2 linked regions of the Homo sapiens genome follow. The protein of the gene in region 1 interacts with the protein of each later gene in a biochemical or structural test. Each region holds a gene or a part of one and is shown on either strand. Other genes may lie near its edges.

The links.
Region 2: the proteins of OBI1 (region 1) and CNOT9 form a complex in vitro, tested with the Homo sapiens proteins (one study listed by BioGRID).

What each region holds. Positions count from the first base shown.
Region 1 is NC_000013.11:78,649,117-78,652,933, forward strand, and holds part of OBI1 (ORC ubiquitin ligase 1), read right to left. Parts: intron 1-3,817. UniProt on the Homo sapiens protein: E3 ubiquitin ligase essential for DNA replication origin activation during S phase.
Region 2 is NC_000002.12:218,567,534-218,571,804, forward strand, and holds the start of CNOT9 (CCR4-NOT transcription complex subunit 9), read left to right. Parts: upstream 1-1,305; 5' UTR 1,306-1,421; coding exon 1,422-1,445; intron 1,446-4,271. UniProt on the Homo sapiens protein: Component of the CCR4-NOT complex which is one of the major cellular mRNA deadenylases and is linked to various cellular processes including bulk mRNA degradation, miRNA-mediated repression, translational repression during translational initiation and general transcription regulation.

The sequences.
Region 1 (3,817 bases):
TAAGCCCATTTTTAAGTGGACAAGTTCAACAAGGCAGGTTTTGAGTCACTGCCATAAAAGACATGAGCATATAAGGCCATAGGACTGGAGGAGATCTCATGAATGGACAAAACAGCTGGAGAAAAGAAGGCACTCCAGCAAGCAAAGGAAGAGGAAGAGCAACCAGCAGAGGAAACTGACAAGGAGGGGTCCTGTGATGTAGGAAAGGAGAATATGATATCACAGAAGTCAAGGCAAGAAAGTTTTTCAAGAGAGAGGCAGCGGCCAGATAAGTAAAATATTGATGTGAGATTGAGTTTGATGTGCACTGAGATGTGACTATGGGATTTAACTGCTTGGAAGTCACTCTGATCAGTTACCGACAAGCACTGTTTCAGCGAATGTTGGGGATGGAAACCTGACTGGAGGTTGAGAGACAATGAAAGATGAAGAAGTGAAGACAGAAAATACAGACAATTCTTTCATGTTTTGCTGTAAAGGAGAGAGCATAAAAATGAGACGACGGTTAGGAATACCAATGGGAATGATAAAGAGAGGATATTAGTGATGGATGAAGAGTGATGGGGGTATTACAGCGATAGGCAACAAAGTCCCTAAGAAGTCAAGAGGGGAAAGGGATCCAAAGCACAAAAGGAGATTTTGGCACATACAGGAGTGAGGGTTTGTCTTCTTTTGCAACAGAAGGGAAAATAGGGGGTGTGTGAACAAACACAAAGGGGTTGGAAGATCTGTGGATGGAAAAATGAGGAAATTCATGTTCCCACTATCTCAGCTGCTTATCTTTTGTCATCAAATATGAGGTGAAGTTATCAGCTGAAAACGAGAAGGGAAGTGGGTTACAGATTTGAGAAGACAGGAGAATAAAGCAGTAATTTTGAAAAGTGAGAAAGCTAATTTACTAGGGATAGGTAGCAGATTGCTATACATTGTTGAGTTCCTTTTCCAGGTCTGTGGTTTCTAATGCAAAGTAAGATTAATTAACGTAGGTGTGTATTTTTCTTATCAATATTTAGCTGTGGAGACTCAGGAAGGAAGTAGATGAGTAGTTTGGTTTACCCAGAGTTGGGGTTTTGCCAAGGAGGAAGAGACAGGGACTGATGATAACAAATGACCACGAATAATAAGGGAAACAAGTACACAAGCGGTAATGATAACAGTGAAAAAGTGATAGGGTCAACAAAAATGTCTCCATGAGGTTGAAGTAATGGTAGAGAATAAGTATGATAGAAACAGGATCAGAGAGTGGGATGCTTATAGTCAAGATACTAAAGGTGGTATAACTGCCTTCTCTAATGTTTTGTTCTGGGCCATCTTATCTGATGTGTTCTATTTTCTCTCTCAATCTCATGTGTCACATGGCATTAACATCTATTCTATGCTGACAACTCCCAAGTCTCCCTCTGTAACTGGAGTCAGTAAGTGGCAGAGCTTAGGCTCTGACAGACAAACCTGGGGCCAACTCCAGTTCTGCCATTTATTGAGCAGTCTGACCTTGGGTAAGCCCTTTAGCTACTGTGGGCATCAGTTTCTGCCTCTGAAAACTGTGGCTTAACCTAGTAACCTTTTCATTCAGGTTTAAGATAATATAATGGATGTCAGCACAGACACTTCTACATAGCAATCCCTCAAAAAAAAAAAAAAAGGTAATATTACTATATCCAAGTGCCTAGGAGCCGACTACATATAAGGATCCTGCAGCTGCCTCAACCATAATTTGGCCTCCACTACACACTTGCTCCTCTTCCTGCACACCCTCCCACCTAAGTTAATGAGATCACTACTTCTCCACTTGAGCTACAACAGAGCTATCTCTGAATCACTCTTTTTACTTATCCTCACCATCCAAACTGTCACCAGACGCTGGTATTATACATTAAGTCTAAGAAGCCACAGATTTGAAGATTCACCAATATTTTATGTATCACTAAGAATGAAAAACTGTCAATTACAATTGTTAAGATACAATCAGATTCCAGAGATGTTATAATTTGAAAAAAAATGTACATCTCAGAATAGTCAAAACATGACAAATCTACCTCCAAACATTCTTTCACCTCTCATCTATCCTTTCCTTTGCATCTTCACCCCAATGAATTTAAGGTTCTCATTCTTTTGTCTTTGATCTACTGCAATGACCACCTCCCAAGCTTCCAAATGTTCATTTCAGTACATCTTTCACAATGATGCCAGAGCTACCTTCCTAAAATATGAATAAGCAGCTTTCACTCCTCTCCTACAAAACAGTAATGATTTTTTTCCTGCTCATAGTTCGAGGTATAGCCTTCAAAGAACATAATCTAATTCTTAAACAGCCATTTCCCTTGACCTACCATTTCAATATTTGACACAATGCACACTTCAACCTCACAGGTCTACTTATGTTCACCAATAAGAATATGAACACTGGGGGCTCCCTGTTTATGGGGCTCCCTATTTATAGAGCTTCCATTTCTCAGCTTGATATATCCTCCTGGTCTCTCCATCCTCCTGACAGTAATAAAAAAAAAATTCCTTCCCTCCTTTTAAGATGCAAATAAAATGCCACCTCCTCTGCAAGCCCTTCATTAATCTTTTTCAGAATTAACCAAGTCTTTGATAGGGCACTCTCTGTTCATTTATTTAATGTTCACCTCTTTCTGCATTGTGCTGTACTTAGAAACTGCTTACATCCTGTCTTCCTTATTAGATTTCAGGCTCACTGACAATAGGGTGAGTGTCCTTCTCATCTCTAACAACTGCAAGATTAATAAAAGTGAATTTTGATGTACTATAATGAAAGGCTGAGATAACAATCCTAAAAGTGCTTCAAGCAGCAAAAGGTCAACAGCCACTGTCAAACTGTAAAAAAGCAAAAGTTTAACCTCCCCATTTAATATGACAAAATGATACAGAACCACCACCACAGGCCGACTGCTTGGCTCTGTCTGCTAAGAGTCATTAACAATGTCACCCACAGGAAAGTTTTCTGCACCTTTGGATACCTGGTATTATCACCACCTTTGTGTTGGGAAGATTTCGGAAACAGGTGACTAATTCATTTCTTTGGAAATGAATATTGGAATGAGTATTTATCAGATGATGATTTCTAGACAACTCAATGAATTTATCTTACGAGAATAGAAATTTCTAAAGAACTACTAAAACAAGTTACTTGTTATATATTTGACTGTAATCTGTGGTAGCAAAACACAAAGAATCTAGCACCCATCCTCTTCTACCCAGATCCTGCTCTGGGTAGAACAAAACACACACATAATTTTCTTTAATAAGATCTTCCCAAGACAAAAAAAAAAAGGTCATCATTTGTCACATTATTAGACTTTCTATCCAATTTACTCTCAAATGAGACCCGTGGCAATAAAACAGTACTCATGAAATAAAAATGCAAGACAAAAAAATGGCAATGGTAAGTGACATACAATTCCAAACTCATCTGGAGTAAGCATAGTAAAGTGGTATCCTAGGGAGCGGTCCCCAACCTTTTTGGCACTAGGGACTGGTTTCGTGGAAGATAATTTTTCCACAGACTGGGGGGTTTCACCTCAGAACATCAGGCATTAGACTCTCCTAAGGAGCACACAATCTAGATCCCTTGCATGCACAGTTCACATTTGGGTTCATGCTCCTATGAAAATCTAATGCTGCCTCTGATCTGACAGGAGGCAGAGCTCAGGTGGTAATACTATCTCACTCCCTGCTCGCCTTCTGCTGTGCAGTCCTGGTTCCTGATAGGCCACTGACTGAACAGTACCTGACTGAGACTGGAGACTCCTGCCCTAGGGTATATCCCCCAGGTGTAAAGGATGGGCTCTTCTTA
Region 2 (4,271 bases), on another chromosome or scaffold:
ATCTCTTCCAGTTAGACACTTGTCAGGAATTGCCACCTCAATAAAGGAATTTATACAGAGCTGAAATTTTGAGAGGAATACCCCAAAACCACTTTAGGACAACTCTTCAGGACACAGGATTTTATCATCAATCATCATTTCCTTTCATGGATCATGACTTAAAATAGTTACATCTAACAACCTGATCTGGCGGCTAGAAATGGGCGCAAGGAAATGCACAACAAAAATACAATTCATGTTTTGCAGTGAGGACTGGTCAAGAGGAAGGTGAAGATGGTCAAGAGAGTGAATGAGTATCATGTCCAAGGCCTGGTGGATGTGCCGTAACGAAAGTCACCTGAAGAGACAGCAGGCCCTGTTAGAAGGTAAGAGGCGAACGACAACAGCCCCAGAGAAAAGGGGCCAGGTTTGAGTTTCGGAGGGAGCGAGTGGCAGTGGAGACCAAGTCAAAGGAGAGGTGGAAGCCGGGGCAGTGCACCCAAAGGTAGTACCTGTGAGGCTGGGGGTGCATCGAGGGGTTGTGGGCGGGCTGAGTAGCAGCAGGGCGAACTCCAGAGGAGTGAACGCCGAGTGGGCGGATCGCACAGAAGGAGGAGGAGGTAGGGAAAACGGCTCAATTGAGAAGCTACCCCGGCCCGCCTTACCTGCGCCGAGGGTCCGGAGCCCCCGGACAGACCCGCGGAAAGCACGGAGCCCGCGAGGAGTGGGAGGAGCCGAGGGTAATGGAAGTAGGGATACCGAACCCAAAGGAGGGAGGCCGCTAGCTACCCCTAGTCAGGGAGAGCGGCTGATGGCGGGAACTGTGACCACACGCAAACACGCACGCACGCACGCACACTCGACGCGACCAGACAGGCGCGTGCGCGTCAGTCGAAAACTCCGCCCCTCACACGCCCTCGCCCCGCCCCGCCAGTACCTAGAGCGGCCTAGCCCGGGCAGCCCCGCCCCTGCCGTGACTGTAGTAGGCACGCGCACTTTCCACCTCACCCGATTTCGACGCCCCCCCACCATTTCCCTCCTACGCAACCCAGTCGGGCATGCGCAATAGTTGTCTTGCCGGGACTGTCCATCTTTTCCCGCCGTTCACTGGCTTTTGGAGGAGGGTCAGAGTTCACGCCGCTCTCTGGAAATAACTGCTCAAAGCCAGAAGTTGCGGGGACTAGTGGTCGCGGACGTCCTTCCGGTCCTAAATCTTAAGGGGCAAAGGACATACTCTGGGACTGTTAACTAGGCCCTGGAGGCGGGAAGAGGATGTGTGGGTGGGGTCAGGGGTGAGAGGTCAGAGGGCCGCGAAGTGGGCGGAGCGAGCCGGAGTCGGATGGCGGCTACGGCGGCTCATTGTTTTCCGCTGCAGGGGTGCTGAAGGGGGGACGCGGGTCGGACGCGTCCGGCTGTGGAAGAGAGCGGCGGCCGCTCACAACATGCACAGCCTGGCGACGGCTGCGGTGAGTGGCTGGGCCCCCAGGCTTGGAACCAGAATCCTTTCTCAGACCCACGTTTCGGCCTTCTCTCCTAATTCCCGGTGTCGGGTCCCTAGTCTGATTTTTTTCTGCCCTCAATCTCCAAGGCCCCGGTTCCCCTCCTCGGCACGCTTTGGTTGTGGTGGAGCCGGCCCCTATTTCCTTGCCGGACGCCTCTCGCGGCCTTCAGCGCGACCCATCGCGTTCTTTGCGGGCGCCGGGGCCTGGTCCCACGCCCGTAGCAGGCCATTCATTGATTTATTGCGCTGACCAACAGTTTCAGGGCGCCAGTTGTGTTCTGGGCGCCGGCGTCGATGAGGGGAATTCCATGGTCAATCTGACGCGGCCCCTGCTCTTAGAACTCACCACGTCGCAGCGGGAAGGAAATGGCTTCTAGTTCAAACCACTTGCTTTATTTATGGAAAACCTGAGGCCCGGAAAAGTGCATAATTTTTGCATCTGACTTAGGTTCTCTGCATTTAAAACTTTTCCTCGACACATCTCGTTTTACCCGCGTGATCTTTTAACAAAAAAGAAAGATAGTGTAATTCAGCTATCCGAAGTAATCCTACTTCTCTTGGCATTTAAATAAAATCTAGACTCCTTGCCATAGCCTGCACGGCCCTGTATGATGTGGTACTTAACCCACGTTTATAATCTCGTTTTATGTCTCTTGCTCCTAAAGCTTCAGCTACTCTGGCCACCTAACCCTCTGCAACGCGCTTATTTTTCTCCAAGATGCACTTTGTGGTCTCTATGCCTGGAGTGAATGTTCTTCTTATCCCTCCTCCTTTACATACACAGCATGAGTGTAATTGGTACCTCTTCCTTGAACTCTCCTTCCTCTCCTTAAACTGTTTATCCAAATCCATCTTTCTTCAGGTCTCTGCCTAAATCGGTCTCAGAGTGGCCTTCCCTGACTATCCTCTTCAAATTAGTTCCGCAGCCTCTAACTTTAGTAGAGTACCCTTTACAGCCCTGATCCCCGTGTAATTATTGTATTCGTTTATTTGTTGTCTGTCTCCTTGAGGGCAGGGACAGGGATCATGTGAGCCCTGTTGACGTGGTTTCCCCGGTGCCAGGACAGTTCCTAGTACAAGATTAAAGACTCAGATACTTTGCTGCATGAAAGAATATTGAAGGGAAGGTGACCACTGAAAGAACATTGCCATGATGGGGAAAGGAGATCATTTGATTTGAGCATACCTGCCTGAAGACCAATTCTGCTTTTTCTGTTTAACCAAAGGGAAATGATTTAAGGAAAGTAATGTACTGAAATTGTATTATCAGGCAAAATGACGTAATTACTAAATAAAGCACCAAAAATTGCCATACGTTTAAGTACAAAAAGTGAAAAATTGAGCCAAGTATGACTAAGCTATAGAAAACTGCTTTTTGAGATTTGATCTCCATTGTCAGTTCCAGTGCTGTTGGTATCTCTGCCTCCTTTCATACTGTTTCTAAGTGTTTGTAACTATTCAATGTAGAGAGTATCTTTTATATCTCAATTAGGTCATTGCAATTCCCCTAGCTTTTTTGTTCCTTCTCCCAAATTATATATGTAACGTGGGGAAAAGCAAGTTGAAAGATGAGTGTGCTGCTATTAGGGGAAAGACAGGTTAAATAAGGGAAATTATTCTAAGGTTGACTTGTCCATCTCTCAAAATCTGATTGTGTCTTCTCCCGAATTTTATCTTCGATACTGAGCCACTCTTTTCCCTGTGCCTTCCCAAACTCTGTAGCTATTCCTTTTATTTTCAATTGCTCCCTAATGCATCTTTTAAACAACCATTAAAGCTGTGGTACATTACTTATAATAAGTACTCAATACATGTTTCTTCACGTTTTCAGTGCCTTACATTAATTTTAAAATTTGAACTTTTAGATGCACTTTCACTTAGGATGTTTGGACCTCGTAGCAGCTCTGACAAATTCCTTCGTACCACTCATTCACTAGGTTATATTTAGCTAGTGAGGAAACTAAAACGTAAAAAGTTGAGCCACCTCATTCTCAATTCTTCATGCCTTCCGTTGGAGCAAACTGCATTATTCTGATGTGGGTAAAGGGACAGTAATGATGCATATCACTCACTGGAATTTGAGAAGCATAATTAATGCATGCAACCGTGCCCAGAATAATCAAAGCCACTTGAGAAGATGCTTACTTTCTGCCGAACAATGAAAGTGTGTATCTGTGACTTTATTTATCTCTTTTTTAAAATAGTAGGTAAATCATCATTTCAGCTAGGGAGATAACAAAGTACTGCCAAATGAGAATGTAAGCCGGGTGGTGTGTGCCCATAGTCCCAGCTACTTGGGAGGCTAAGGAGGGAGGACACTTCACCCCAGGAGTTCCAGGCTACTGTGTGCTATGAAGGCACCTGTGAATGGCCACTGGACTCCAGCTTGAGCAACATAGCAAGACTTTGTCTATTAAGAGAGAGAGAGAATGTAGTCACATGTAAATGCAGGATATTATTCACTAGAAGGAAAAATTAAGATAGTATGGGAAGTATCTTAAATTTTGACTCTTGAGTAGTCGTATGCTAGAAATGTTTAGTGTAGTAGGCTTTTGTGATTCTTTTTTTTTTTTTTGAGATAGAGTTTTGCTCTTGTTGCCCAGGCTGGTGTGCAATAGCGAGATCTCAGCTCACAGCAATCTCCGCCTCCTGGGTTCAAGCAATTCTCCTGCCTCAACCTCCCAAGTAGCTGGGATTACAGGCATTAGCCACGACGCCTGGCTAATTTTTTTTTTTTTTTTTTGTATTTTTAGTAGAGATGGGGTTTCTTCATGTTGGTCAGCCTGGTCTC